Homo sapiens: one gene and its partners. The protein of the gene in region 1 purifies or fractionates together with the protein of each later gene. This does not show direct contact. Each region holds a gene or a part of one and is shown in the gene's direction. Other genes may lie near its edges.

Evidence for each region.
Region 2: the proteins of TMEM74 (region 1) and SLC35F5 purify together in Homo sapiens (affinity purification with mass spectrometry; one large-scale study listed by BioGRID and IntAct). This does not show direct contact.
Region 3: the proteins of TMEM74 (region 1) and MARK2 purify together in Homo sapiens (affinity purification with mass spectrometry; one large-scale study listed by BioGRID and IntAct). This does not show direct contact.
Region 4: the proteins of TMEM74 (region 1) and MLF1 purify together in Homo sapiens (affinity purification with mass spectrometry; one large-scale study listed by BioGRID and IntAct). This does not show direct contact.

What each region holds. Positions count from the first base shown.
Region 1 is NC_000008.11:108,778,474-108,781,534, reverse strand, and holds the end of TMEM74 (transmembrane protein 74), read left to right. Parts: 3' UTR 1-2,561; downstream 2,562-3,061. UniProt on the Homo sapiens protein: Plays an essential role in autophagy. TMEM74-induced autophagy may involve PI3K signal transduction.
Region 2 is NC_000002.12:113,753,843-113,758,100, reverse strand, and holds the start of SLC35F5 (solute carrier family 35 member F5), read left to right. Parts: upstream 1-1,458; 5' UTR 1,459-1,691; coding exon 1,692-1,731; exon of another isoform or gene 1,732-2,224; coding exon of another isoform or gene 2,225-2,246; intron 2,247-2,556; coding exon 2,557-2,647; intron 2,648-2,794; coding exon 2,795-2,936; intron 2,937-4,258.
Region 3 is NC_000011.10:63,898,110-63,901,609, forward strand, and holds part of MARK2 (serine/threonine-protein kinase MARK2), read left to right. Parts: intron 1-122; coding exon 123-171; intron 172-498; coding exon 499-564; intron 565-653; coding exon 654-724; intron 725-942; coding exon 943-999; intron 1,000-1,764; coding exon 1,765-2,001; intron 2,002-2,449; coding exon 2,450-2,569; intron 2,570-2,670; coding exon 2,671-2,770; intron 2,771-2,847; coding exon 2,848-2,960; intron 2,961-3,500. UniProt on the Homo sapiens protein: Serine/threonine-protein kinase. Involved in cell polarity and microtubule dynamics regulation. Phosphorylates CRTC2/TORC2, DCX, HDAC7, KIF13B, MAP2, MAP4 and RAB11FIP2. Phosphorylates the microtubule-associated protein MAPT/TAU.
Region 4 is NC_000003.12:158,602,194-158,604,574, forward strand, and holds part of MLF1 (myeloid leukemia factor 1), read left to right. Parts: intron 1-613; coding exon 614-746; intron 747-2,381. UniProt on the Homo sapiens protein: Involved in lineage commitment of primary hemopoietic progenitors by restricting erythroid formation and enhancing myeloid formation.

The sequences.
Region 1 (3,061 bases):
TCAGATACTTGCCTTAATCGACTTTTCCCTGGGTATTTGGTTTATGTAGCCCTTATCCATCCTGCCTGAATTCAATATGAAGATTACTTGAATTTAAAATGATGGTAACACAGGCAAAGAAAAGCCATGTGCTTTATTTCCTGTTTTTCCCAATCTGACAAAGAGTGTTTTTGGCTCTAGAGGTACTTTGGCAAGACCAGGTGATGCATTCTATAGACATTGGGCATACAATACCTATAGTTTTGGTCTTGCATCCTTCATGGAGATTTGTGACCTTCCGTCTGTCTCTTCAATATGGTGCTGGTTGTTACCTGTGAAAGTTTTTATTGCTAGTCCTAGAGAAGAAAAACATATTTCAGTGGTTCTAGGTCTTTAGCTTATTTACATGGTTTTAGAAATCTAAACTCAAGAGTCATCTTCCTAGTCTCAATGAGAAGACAGCTCGTCTTTCAGCAGTGTGGCCCAATGGGGTGAGTTACAGAAAGAAAGCTGTCTTTCTCCTTTATTACTGGGATCTACACGCTGCTGGTGGATGATTTAAGGCTCCTAATATCTTTATAAGCCAGTTCTTTTTAGGGCACCTTAAACTGTTAGTGGTAGAGTTTGCAAAGAGTTTTCTTTGCAGCGCTGTGTGTCCTTCCCACCCATTGGGAGCTCTTAAAGCAGATCACATAATAAGATGTACTGGCCCCTCATATAAAGAACAGCTTTTCGTCATGCTCCCCACTGTGTAGGTGATTTATAGTTTACAGGAAGACAAGACTGCTTGGAACCATGAAGTTCTTGGAGGCCATGGTTGCTTTTACCCACATGACTGCTATAACCCTTGATTCTGTTCTATCAAGTTACTTGCCTTGATATCATCACATGCTTTGCTGTCTGCTTAAAATATGAGTTCATCCCCCTCATACTTATTTGTTTTAGGGACCCAATTGGACCAGTGCTGGCACATGCCCTTCAAGGTACAATTTCTGAAAAGAGACTGCGCTGCCAAACTTATGTGTGCCTTTACCTCAGTCCCCCCAGTATAAGGGGTGACTTAATCTTGATAAATGAGTGACTGAGCACCATGCTAGTTAAATATTGAGAATTAAAAGCCTGAACCCAATGGCTCTATTTTTTTTTACCACCTTCTGACAAGCAAAAATTCTAGGCAGGAGCATGTGAACATTTTGGTCTTCATCTTTCACGTGTGCAATGATAGGTGTATGCAAAATTTTACTTGGATTAATTGTCAAGTTAAAAAAGTGTTCTATATGTATATCTCTTAGGAGAAGGTTTTTCAACCTGAAGGTCAGATTTCATTGCAGCAATTAATGCCATCAAAAAAACGTGGTCTGACAAAAAAGATTCACAACCTTTGCCAGTGGTTCACCTATTACAGCAAGATGTAATACTATCAATACTTACTGTTCTCTGTAATGGGTTTAACCTTTCCCAGAATTGGACATAAAGAATGACTACGATGAGAAGATTATAATGAAGTCTTACTGGCTTTTCCTAGTCTAAAAAGAGTACTTAAGAAAGAGAATTAACATATCATTTCCTTTTGGCTGATTTTTAGCTATATCTGTTTTTGGTTCATAATATTCTATATTATCATCTCACAAATTTTATAAGTCTTGGGAAATAATTTGCCTGCCTAGTGAATTGACACTGTAAAAAGCAAGACGTTATTTTAAACACATAAAACTAATTTCAAGAATCTGTGGCTTACACTCAAGAGTGTACTCGTGGTTTATGTTTGTGTGCAGATTTATGTGCACTCAAGTCTATGTGCATTTGGACTATATTTTATAGTTATACAGCTTTAATATCCAAAGTTATTGTTAGAATAATTTTATTATAGGAATTTGGCATGCCTTACTATTGACATTAAGAAGAAGAGAAGTCTTTCACAAGTCATGAATGAAGAATTTGGAATCAGCCTCAGAATGAGATGCCATAATTATTATAAACCTGTTTTGGTTGTTCAGCCTCCCACAAATATTTATTAATTTGTTTTTTAACCTCTCAATTTCAGGCTCATGAGAGTGTGAGATATTTGGAAATTATTTTACCGTGAATTGTTATTTTATTTCAGGGGACTATGGGGAGTATATTCCTTTGTTTCAAATTTGGGTAACTCTCCTGTGTTTCAGGAACAGCTCTCCCTATTTTTTCACTGCCATCTTCAGGCTTCCTAGCCAGGCTCCAAACAAATGTCATATAAGAAAGAAAGATTAATTATTACATATTGTGTATTGAGAGTTTGTACCCTGTGGTTCTCATCGTGCTGTTAATTTTACTTTTCTTGCCAAACAAAAATAATTTGACATTGATTATGTGCTTTTTGATATTTTCAAGGGCAATTATTAAGGTTATGAGCTCTTTCTTAGGGCACTTGATGCCTTATATGTTAATAGCAAGTGTGTCATATCATTTTAAAATAAAACTATTCAAAGGCTTTATTGTGTTTATTAAGCTTAATTTAAATTGGAATCTGTAATGCTGATTTGGTCTTTTAAAATTATATTTGAAATTATTTGTCCAAAAAAATTAAAATGAATATTTACCCCTAATTTAGGTTTGTCATTCTTCTTGCTACCATTTCACTATATAATGTAGACTGTGCCTTATTTTTTGTTGTTTTATAGGAAATAGTCCAAGTTATTTGGGTTTCTCTAAATTACTCAGTATTAGAGTACACATTTTATGATATGGAAAAATACATGAATAAATATTTTTTAAAAACACTTATCTGAGTGTCTAGAAAGCTTTTAGGTGAGAAACAAGTATCAAATTAACTTATGCACCTGCTTTTAATCTAATTTTGATCTCCATTTTCATTTGAAGAATGTATCACAATTTATATTATTAACTGGAATTTTATCCTTATTATATATAAGTGCTGTCAAGGTCAAAAACTCTAAAGAGACATTTGGAAGTGAGGCCCCATATCTTGCTCCATCTATTTTGAATAAAAATTGGATCAAGATTCTTATCTACATCCTTTATAGGAAGAAAGTCTACTTCTTTCGATATCTGTTTTTTTCTAGAAGTTCTTTTGGCTTTTGTTAAC
Region 2 (4,258 bases), on another chromosome or scaffold:
TAATTTTTTGCATTTTTTTAATAGAGACGGGGTTTCACCGTGTTAGCCAGGATGGTCTCCATCTCCTGACCTCGTGATCCACCTGCCTCGGCCTCCCAAAGTGCTGGGATTACAGGCATGAGCCACCGCGACCGGCCTGGTTGGTTTTTTTTTTTACTCTGCACAATAGGTTTCTGAATGACTTATTAGAGGTGTTTGATGCTGATAGTTTGAAACTGATTCGATCAATTAAAAAATGTTCATTGGTATTGTTTTATTAGTTGCTAGAATATGCATTCAACTTCACTGAAACGAGACTTAAAAGGTAAGAGGTACACTACATCGCGACTATAGGAGTAAGAAAATTTAATTTCTTCACGCCATCTGACCAAGATGTTAAATTACTGAACCCTTTAGTCTTGTTTTTGTTTTGTAGATAGAAATCAAGATGCTGGACAAACCTTTCTCATGGAATAGTCAAAATATTTAAGGAACAAATCTATACAGTTTAATAACTGCCAACATTTGGCAGGGCTCATGCCTGTAATTCCAGCACTTCGGGAGGTCGAGGCGGGCGGATCACTTAAGACTAGGAGTACGAGACCAGCCTGGCCAACATGGCGAAACCCTGTCTCTACTAAAAAATATAAAAATTAGCCGGGCATTGGTGGCTTGCGCCTGTAGTCCCGGCTACACTGGAAGCTGAGGCTGGAGAATCGCTTGAGCCCGGGAAGCAGAGGTTGCAGTGAGCTGTGATTGTGCCACTGCACTGCAGCCTGGGTGGCAGAGAAAGACCCTGTCTCAAAACAAACGAACGAACAAAAAATTGCTGACGTCTGTGAGGTTCTTATTATGTGCCATGAATTGATCTACGTCCTTCACATATGTAAACTCATGCAATCCTAGCATACACACAAAAAACCAATGTGGCAGGTACTATCATTATCGTAGACAAGGAAACCGAGGACCAGAGAAGTTGAAGTAGCTTGGCCTAGGATGTAGGTTGTAACTCCTAGAGCTGAGATCTTGTTTATATACAAAAGGTTTCAAGAATCAAAAGTACTCTAAGCCACTTTGCGTTTCGGCTGTCATCGAGAAAGGGATATCCGAAGTTTCAGGTTCGCAGTTTGTGAAACGGAACGGCCAGCTTTCGTTCTAAGGCGGGCGGAGGTTTAGCCACTCCCTCGTCCTTTGCTCTGCCCCAGACACCCACGCTCGCTTTCCTCTTCTTCCTCCACCTCGCCCTACTTCCCTTCTTCCTATCTTCTCTCTTCTTTCGCCTCGCCGCCGCGAGCCCTCGCTCGGCGACCAGAGCCTCGCATTACTTCCCCTAGCTCCGCCAAGCCTCGCTGCATACGCGACCGCGCGCAGTCCGCCGTCGCGCCCCTATGACGTCACCCGCGCGCCACCGCTTCCGGGCTGGGGACTGGGGGCGGGGCCGCGCGGAGGGCAAGCCGGGGGCGGGGCCGGGGCCAGAGCAGATCTCCGGGCCTCCGCGGCCATAGCTGACTGTGCCGTCCCTTCCCCTCACCCGCTCCACGCCCTCCTGGGCCGAGTGGAGTTGGGTGGTGTCGGGAGCCTCTCCCTGAGGGGCACCGCGTCTTCAGGAGCTGGGCCTCCAGTGCGGCGCGATGTCAGGCGCGGTGACAGCTCTGTGAGTCCGAGGCCGCGGCCGTGGCGCTGGGCGGCTGCGGGGCCTGACCGGTCCGCTCATGGTGCCGCCACGACGCCATCGCGGGGCAGGAAGGCCAGGTAGGCAGGCAGGGAAGGGCCCCGACATCACCGGAGCCCAAACCGGGACGGAGTGCCCACCAGCAGCACCACCTCCTGCCCTCGGTGGCAGCAGGAGCGCCTTGACCGAAACCGTGAAGGTCTCTAGGGGCGGAGGGAGCGGGAGCTGACAGGGGCGCCGGAGCCCTGCGCCCACCGCTGGCAATTGAGGAAGCCGTGCGTGCGCCCTCGCCTCGGCTCCCCGGGGAGGCGTCGCTGCCTTAACTGTCTTCCCCGCTCCAAAACAGAAGGATGATTTCTTTTCCCAGCTGTTTCTTTTAAAATGACTGGATGTTTTGATAGAGGTGGGTGGAGGAGCATGGAGAATCCTTTTCTTTTACCACTTGAAGAGATTGGAAAGGTGCCTTCAAGACCCACAGCAAATCACTTACTCTCCGATAACCAAATTCCACTCCAGCAGATCAGGGACAGAAAAGACACTTTTAGAAACAGTGTCTAGACGCTGTCCCCAGGGATGGATTCCTCTGGATGGAGAGGTGAATGGAGTTCCGTATTTGTGAAACTCAGAGAAGCTATTTTCTGGTAGTTAACTGTTCTTAAATGTGCCGTATGTTGTATATTACTCCCCCTCCCTGCCCGCCCCGTATCGCGTATCTCTCTAAGTATAATCTGAAGCGTGCAGTGGATACCATGAAAGTACTGAGAAAGGTGGCAAGTATGTTTAACACATTTTGGTCCTTTTCATTGATTTGCTTTGAGTTTGAAGATGAAGAGTAAAAAACGATGTGATGAATCTTACCTTGAGTTATTCACGTTTTCATAGCATAATTTCATGGTTGTTTTTAGGGGTGCTGAGTTCTTCACCTCCTTTTAGACTGAGATCTGCCAAGTTTTCCGGCATTGCTCTTGAGGATCTCAGAAGGGCTCTTAAGACAAGGTAGATTCCACGTTTATCCTCTATGTAACTTTCACACTGAACATTAGCTAACAAAAGTCAAATGTTTCTGTTATACTAATGTTCTCATTTTTAATGGTTGTTTTTCTAAAATCATCTCTAATGTGATCTGTATTTTCTAAAAAACAGACTGCAAATGGTGTGTGTATTTGTCATGAACCGAATGAATTCCCAGAACAGTGGTTTCACTCAGCGCAGGCGAATGGCTCTTGGGATTGTTATTCTTCTGCTTGTTGATGTGATATGGGTTGCTTCCTCTGAACTTACTTCGGTATGTACCTTTGGTCCAGGAATGATGTTACATTACAGCCACAATGTTAACTCTTAACCTGTAGTAACTCTAGCCGTTACAATCTCCTGCTTTCTAAAAGCAGTATCTTAAATACTATTGAATTTTTAAAAAACGTTGAATTATTGCCACTTGAAGTTAAAACTGAAAGGATGATCCTTTTTATTGTTTCATACAGTTTTCTTGTATCTTTTAGGGAGGGTTACTTAGAGAGACTATGCATATTTTCTTACATTTGAAAGTGTAACTCGTGGCTTTTTTTCTAAATTCAAATTCTTTCTGTAAATATTATTTTCTAGTGAAATAACTGTCAGGATGCAAAACAATGTCACCATTTAGTAGAAGGTTCAGAGTGCTTTTGGACAAATGAGTAAAAATAATGAGTTTTCATGTATAGGTCACTGTTACAATGCCCATGAGTGGTTGCATCCACATTTATGCTTGCTGACTCAAACCTTATTATAAGATGCATGGTATACCTCATAATTTTCCTTCAGTTAAATTGTATCTTGACAGTTTCCTTCAGTTAAATTGTGTCTTTATTGATGACCTATTGGTAGTAATGTGGCATTTTGAATTTGCAAGCTAGTTTTTCTTTCTACTTGTATACTTTATTCTGCTTGGTTAATGATCCCTATAAAAAGCAACTTTTATTTTCAGAAGTCTGCATTTCAACTTCTACGTTGCAATTTTAAGGCGAATATACAGCAGGAAACTGGCATTTATAAAATGAACCTAATTTTCAAAAGAAGCAGTTTAATACTCAGGTCTCATATTGTAGCTAAGTAAATATTGACATTGGCATTGTATCCTATGAGTATATAAGTTTTTTTTTTTTTTTCTTTTTTTTTTGAGATGGAGTCTTGCTCTGCTCTGTCGCCCAGGCTGGAGTGCAATGGTGCGATCTCGGCTCACTGCAACCTCCGCCTCCCGGGTTCAAGGGATTCTCCTGCCCCGGCCCCCTGAATAGCTGGGATTACAGGCACACCCCACCACGCCAGGCTAATTTTTGTATTTTTAGTAGAGACGGGGTTTCACCATGTTGGTCAGAATGGTCTCAAACTCCTGACCTCATGATCCGCCCGCCTCGGCCTCCCAAAGTGCTGGGATTACAGACGTGAGCCACCTCACCTGGCCAAGTATATAAGTTTTTATGCTTTTCAGAATTAATCTCTGGAATCTAATAGACCATATATTTTTTGCTTTAAAACTCTTCTCTAACCTTCTTTTAGATGAACATTTTGTACTTCTACCTCAAAGAAATGTCTTTGATATTGACAGGGAACTAAACCTATCTTTTAAAT
Region 3 (3,500 bases), on another chromosome or scaffold:
CTATTTTCTTTTCCCTGCCCGGTTTTGGTTTTTTGGGAAAAACAAATCCTGGCAGGGACTGTTTGGAGAGACCTGATGGGAGCAAGTTGGGCAGGCATGACCCCTGGTATTTTATCTTCCAGCTATTCCGCGAAGTAAGAATAATGAAGGTTTTGAATCATCCCAACATAGGTGAGCACAAGTTGTTATTTCTTTCTTCTTCCCCAACAGCAAGGCACTGCTTTCCAGCATGTCATCTTCTCCCCGAGGTGCACTGCCTTCTGGAGTCTGCAGTCTTCAAGGATACCCCTGGGGAAGCTCAGCTCAAAATCCATCTCCCCTTCTGGCACACTGGGCTGTCTTTAGCAGTTTGGCTGGCATGAGAGGAACTTGTTCTTGGGAGTGGGGGATCATGAAAGGAGGGGAGACTTTCGTTCCTAGGATGCTCCTGGACATGTTGGAGAGCAGTATGTGGCCCCTGTTGCTTCTTGACTTAAGGCTTGGCCTTTTCTCTTGTAGTTAAATTATTTGAAGTGATTGAGACTGAGAAAACGCTCTACCTTGTCATGGAGTACGCTAGTGGCGGTAGGTGTGGAACTGCCTCTTCCTGTTGTGCCCCCACTTCTTCCACCTCCAGCCAGCTCTGACTGAGATCCCTGCCTGGTCTCTTACAGGAGAGGTATTTGATTACCTAGTGGCTCATGGCAGGATGAAAGAAAAAGAGGCTCGAGCCAAATTCCGCCAGGTAGGTGTGACTCCCTCCATAGGAGCTAGGCCTGACCTCTGCTTTTGGGGTTTGACATGTAAGGATAAGCTGCCTGTCTGTAAGTGGCCCTTGGAGGGTACTTTGGGCTCTGCTTATCCGTGTGGCAGGTTAGCACTAAGTCACAGGGTCACTGCTCTGTCAGCCCCTGTGGCCCACCCTCAGGCACCCCTGGGTTAACCCTTCTTCCTTCCTTTCAGATAGTGTCTGCTGTGCAGTACTGTCACCAGAAGTTTATTGTCCATAGAGACTTAAAGGTAAGGCATGCACTTCTCCTTGTGCCTTTGAGTGGGAGCCAGGTTGTTGCCTCTTGGTTCTCCATGATAAAACCATCAATAACCATCAGGCCCTGAGTGTTCCAGGAAACTCCAGCCTTTCTTTTTTTCTTTCTTTCTTTCTTTTTTTTTTTTTGAGATGACCAGAAAGCCCCTAGGGCTGCCTCTGATAGAGGCCTTGTGGCTGGACCTCGGGTTCCATTCTAGCCCTTGAGCAGGGGCCCTCTGCCATTTCACCTCTTGGCACATCACCTTTTAGTGCTGCCAAGCAAGGCAGGCACACTCCAGGCTTTCTCAGTCTTTCAGGCAACCTGGTAGCTGACCCAGGGAAGAGTGCTGAAAGTTCCACAGCTGTATCCCAGCTGCTTTGCAGGCAGGCACACACATACCATCTCCATCACCAAGATACTCAAGTTTGAGGACACCTGTGGGTCTCTTGGCTGCTGAGTCCTCACAGACATGATTTGATTAACCTGGGCCTGATGCTGAAGCTTTGCACAGCTCACAGGGTCTCTGGGCCTTCAGATCCCATCTCTCCCATGGCTGCCCACGTGAGGAGTGGCCTGCATTGCCTTCCTCCTGCCCAGCCTATTCACGCTGATTGAAGCCCTGCCCTGAAATTGGTGGAGAAAGTTCTGAGACTGAAGATGACTTTCCGTTTGTTCTCCCATTCCCCTCAGCTCCTTCCTGCCCAGGGCCTTAGTCTGGTCCACTTGGTTCCCTGATGTTTTCCATCTTACCTCCCAGGCAGAAAACCTGCTCTTGGATGCTGATATGAACATCAAGATTGCAGACTTTGGCTTCAGCAATGAATTCACCTTTGGGAACAAGCTGGACACCTTCTGTGGCAGTCCCCCTTATGCTGCCCCAGAACTCTTCCAGGGCAAAAAATATGATGGACCCGAGGTGGATGTGTGGAGCCTAGGAGTTATCCTCTATACACTGGTCAGCGGATCCCTGCCTTTTGATGGACAGAACCTCAAGGTGGAGTGAAGTGCAAGCTTTTTATTGCTTCTCATTTCCTCTCGGCCTCTGGTCTTAGCCCTGACCTCCTGCCTTTGCCACCTGTCTACATTTGTCCCAAGCCAAAGCTTCAGAGAAGGGCTTGCTGAGGTAGCAGCAGTCAAAGGCCTTCTGCACCTGGGAATGAATAACCTCAGTTCCTTTCTCGAAAGATGGGATAAACTGTGTGTGTGTTCATCCCCCAAGGCACTCCGGATTGCAGGCCTCGGACTGGTCAAGTTAGAGGGTACGAGGGTATTTGACTTCACTTGCCTCTCTGGTGAGGTGTCTTGTCCCCAGGCTGTCTGCCTTCTTCCATATTTCATTTATGTCTGCTTTGCCAGGCTTAAGCTCTCAGGATCTTGGATATTAGGTTTCTTCCTTTGGCCTTGGGGTGATTTCAATTTTCTAACCCTGGATCCTCCTGCAGGAGCTGCGGGAACGGGTACTGAGGGGAAAATACCGTATTCCATTCTACATGTCCACGGACTGTGAAAACCTGCTTAAGAAATTTCTCATTCTTAATCCCAGCAAGAGAGGCACTTTAGAGGTGAGCAGTGGAGCCCAACTGGCGGAAGGGCCTGGGGTCCCCACAGAAACTTTCCAGCTGAGTTTCTTCCCCCTGCCCTTTTCCTTCTCTGTGCTCCCCAGCAAATCATGAAAGATCGATGGATGAATGTGGGTCACGAAGATGATGAACTAAAGCCTTACGTGGAGCCACTCCCTGACTACAAGGACCCCCGGCGGACAGGTGAGGCTGTGCCGGGCTGTGAGGTTAAGCTTGCCTAGGAGTTGAGGCCAGTCTTAACTGTATGTCCCCCTGTGCAGAGCTGATGGTGTCCATGGGTTATACACGGGAAGAGATCCAGGACTCGCTGGTGGGCCAGAGATACAACGAGGTGATGGCCACCTATCTGCTCCTGGGCTACAAGAGCTCCGAGGTGTGTGCTCCCCGCCCCATTCTCTGACCTGGCCAGCCTCACTGTCTGTAGCACCTATGCTTCTAACACCTGTTGAGGGCAGAAGCTCATCTCTGAGTAGGTGTGCTCTCTGCTCACCAATTTTAAGCCTCAGCTTTGGTGTCTAAGGTCCTCTGGCCCATTCACTGATCTCCATGAGTGAATTAATAGAAAGCTGGTAGGGTCGGTGTGGGACTGGGTCAGAGTTTCAATACGGGTGAGTTGATCTAGGTTAGTCTGCATTGATTAGATGTGTCTAGGTCATCGGCTAGCACTACTACATTGATCTAGATATCTTTGTGTCTCTTTTTGTATCTGGAAGTGTACATTTCTGGGTGTGTGTGTGTGTCTCTGTGTGTGTCTGATCGGAAGTTTGAGTCTGTTGCTTTTTTTTTTTTTTTTTTTTTTGAGACGGAATTTCGCTCTTGTTGCCCAGGCTGGAGTGCAATGGCAGGATCTTGGCTCACTGCAACCTCCGCCTCCCGGGTTCAAGCGATTCTCCTGCCTCAGCCTCCCAAGTAG
Region 4 (2,381 bases), on another chromosome or scaffold:
ATTTTATCACATTTATATATATACTGAGTATTTCACAATAATCAACATTTTGATGAAAAATTGAGTGAAGGAACATAATATTTTAAAGCAGTCTTAAGAAGTACTATCATGTCTCTATTGTTGCTATTATGGAAGTTAGATTACTTCATAACAACATGAATTGACATTCTAGCTGAGTAACCTGTCTTAGGAAATTGACAACAGAAACTTGTGAGGTCAAGTTACACAGAAAGATGGTTAGGTGAATAGAAGTGCTAGCCACAGAAGTATACACTATACAGGAAGAGTATATTCACTGTGAGATGACCCAGGAAGAAAAACTGTTAGTTAATATAATTAGGTCAGCTGGTCCATTGGGTAGAATAATATGTTATCCAGGCAGTTGAAAAAATAGATCATCAATAACTAGATCATCAGTAGGAATAGGAGAGGAACAGACAGGAAAACAAATACTACTTTTGTCAAAGACCCTTATATTTGAAGCAGCTTCCTGCCTCTGTATTGAGGTTACACTAATGAAAACACCAGACTAGACTGAAATATGTGGGAGCAAGGCAGTTACTGACAGTTGATACCTTAATACTTATTCCCATTATTTTTCTGTTTGACATAGGTGATGCTCATGCTTTTGATGAGGAGTGGCAAAGTGAGGTTTTGAAGTACAAACCAGGACGACACAATCTAGGAAACACTAGAATGAGAAGTGTTGGCCATGAGAATCCTGGCTCCCGAGAACTTAAAAGAAGGTAAAAGTTGTTTCTAAAATAGTTTGGTTTTTTAAGAAGAATTTGAAGTAAAGTTATGTAATTTACTTCTGTTATCAGAAAGTTTTGATGATCATCCAAATTGTATCCACAGTATCTTTTGTGAAAGATGTAATAATTTTATATGAAAGCTGATTATTCCACACAAATTTAAATTTATATCTAAAAATCAATAATAGTTTAGGATTTTATGGTTAGTAATTCACTAGTAAACTATGCCTCAGAAGACAGAGACCAAAATCCTCTTAAGGAAAACTGATATCCTGTAGTGTAGTTATTCTTGTAAAACACATTGTAATATGGATATAGATAGAGTCATACATTTCACACTGGTAAAGATATCTAGAGATATGATAAGGGGAGAGGGGCTCTATTTGGAAGACTTAACAACTTTCTTAACAAATCAAAATTTAGCATTTAATAGTAAATTTCAGACACTTGTATAATATGTAACAGTACATGCAATACCATATTCGATGTGTATTAGATATTTTGGAAGAATTTTGCAAGAACATTAGCTTCTTTTAGAATTCCCTTTTAGAATAGCTGAGAAAAATAAATTTGCTGAAACCACATATTAAAGATTATAGAGATTTCTGTCTGGACATGGTGGCTCATACCTGTAATCCCAGCACTTCCGGAGGCCGAGGCAGGTGGATCAGTTGCGGTCAGGAGTTCGATACCAGCCTGGCCAACATGGTGAAACCCCGTCTCTACTAAAAATACAAAAATTAGCTAGGTGTGGTAGCACACACCCTGTAATCCCAGCTACTTGGGAGGCTAAGGCAGGAGAATTGCTTGAACCTGGGAGGCAGAGGTTGTGGTGAGCCAAAATCACACCACTGCACTACAGCCTGAGTGACAGAGCAAGACTCCATCTCAAAAATAAATAAATAAATATTATAGAGTTTTTAAATACATTTTGTACATACTCTGGAGCTACAGTTTAATGTGGTTCTCAGAGGAATAAATGGATAATAATATCTAATTCCTATGAAGTTACACTCAAAGGCCTCACCAGACCTTAAATAGAAATCTGTTCTAAGCTATAAGAAAGTGGAAAATTGCTACAGAAGGTGGAAGCCTTCACAGAACTAGCAGTGGACAAGTGAGTATCAAGTAAATCAGAAGCCTTATGCAGAATTTCATATGCTAGGATCTTTTCTTCTAAAATACTTGTTTAGGAATTTAGAGCCCTAGTATTTTCTATTGAATTGCTTGAAAACTTGCTCCCATATTCATTATAGATATTTGTCTCATTTGAAAAATGTATTGATTAAAAACCTGGCAGTGCCAAGTTTGAATAGGAAATCCAGGTCGCACTTAGAGAAGGCATGCTCTTTATGGATGACCTATAAATTTCTGGCCCTAACAGTGGCATTTTCTCTTAACCGGCACTGTCCAATGGCATTTTCTGAAATGACTTCGGTAATGACAAAAATGCTATATATCTATTCTGTCCAGTGTAGTAATCACTAGCCACATGTGGCTGTTGATTCACATTTGAAGCATTGCTGGTACAACTGAAGAACTGAATTATTTTATTTTAATTCAAATATAAATGTGGTTAGTGACTACCATACTGTTAACATTAAACAGTGTTTAAACTATAAACAG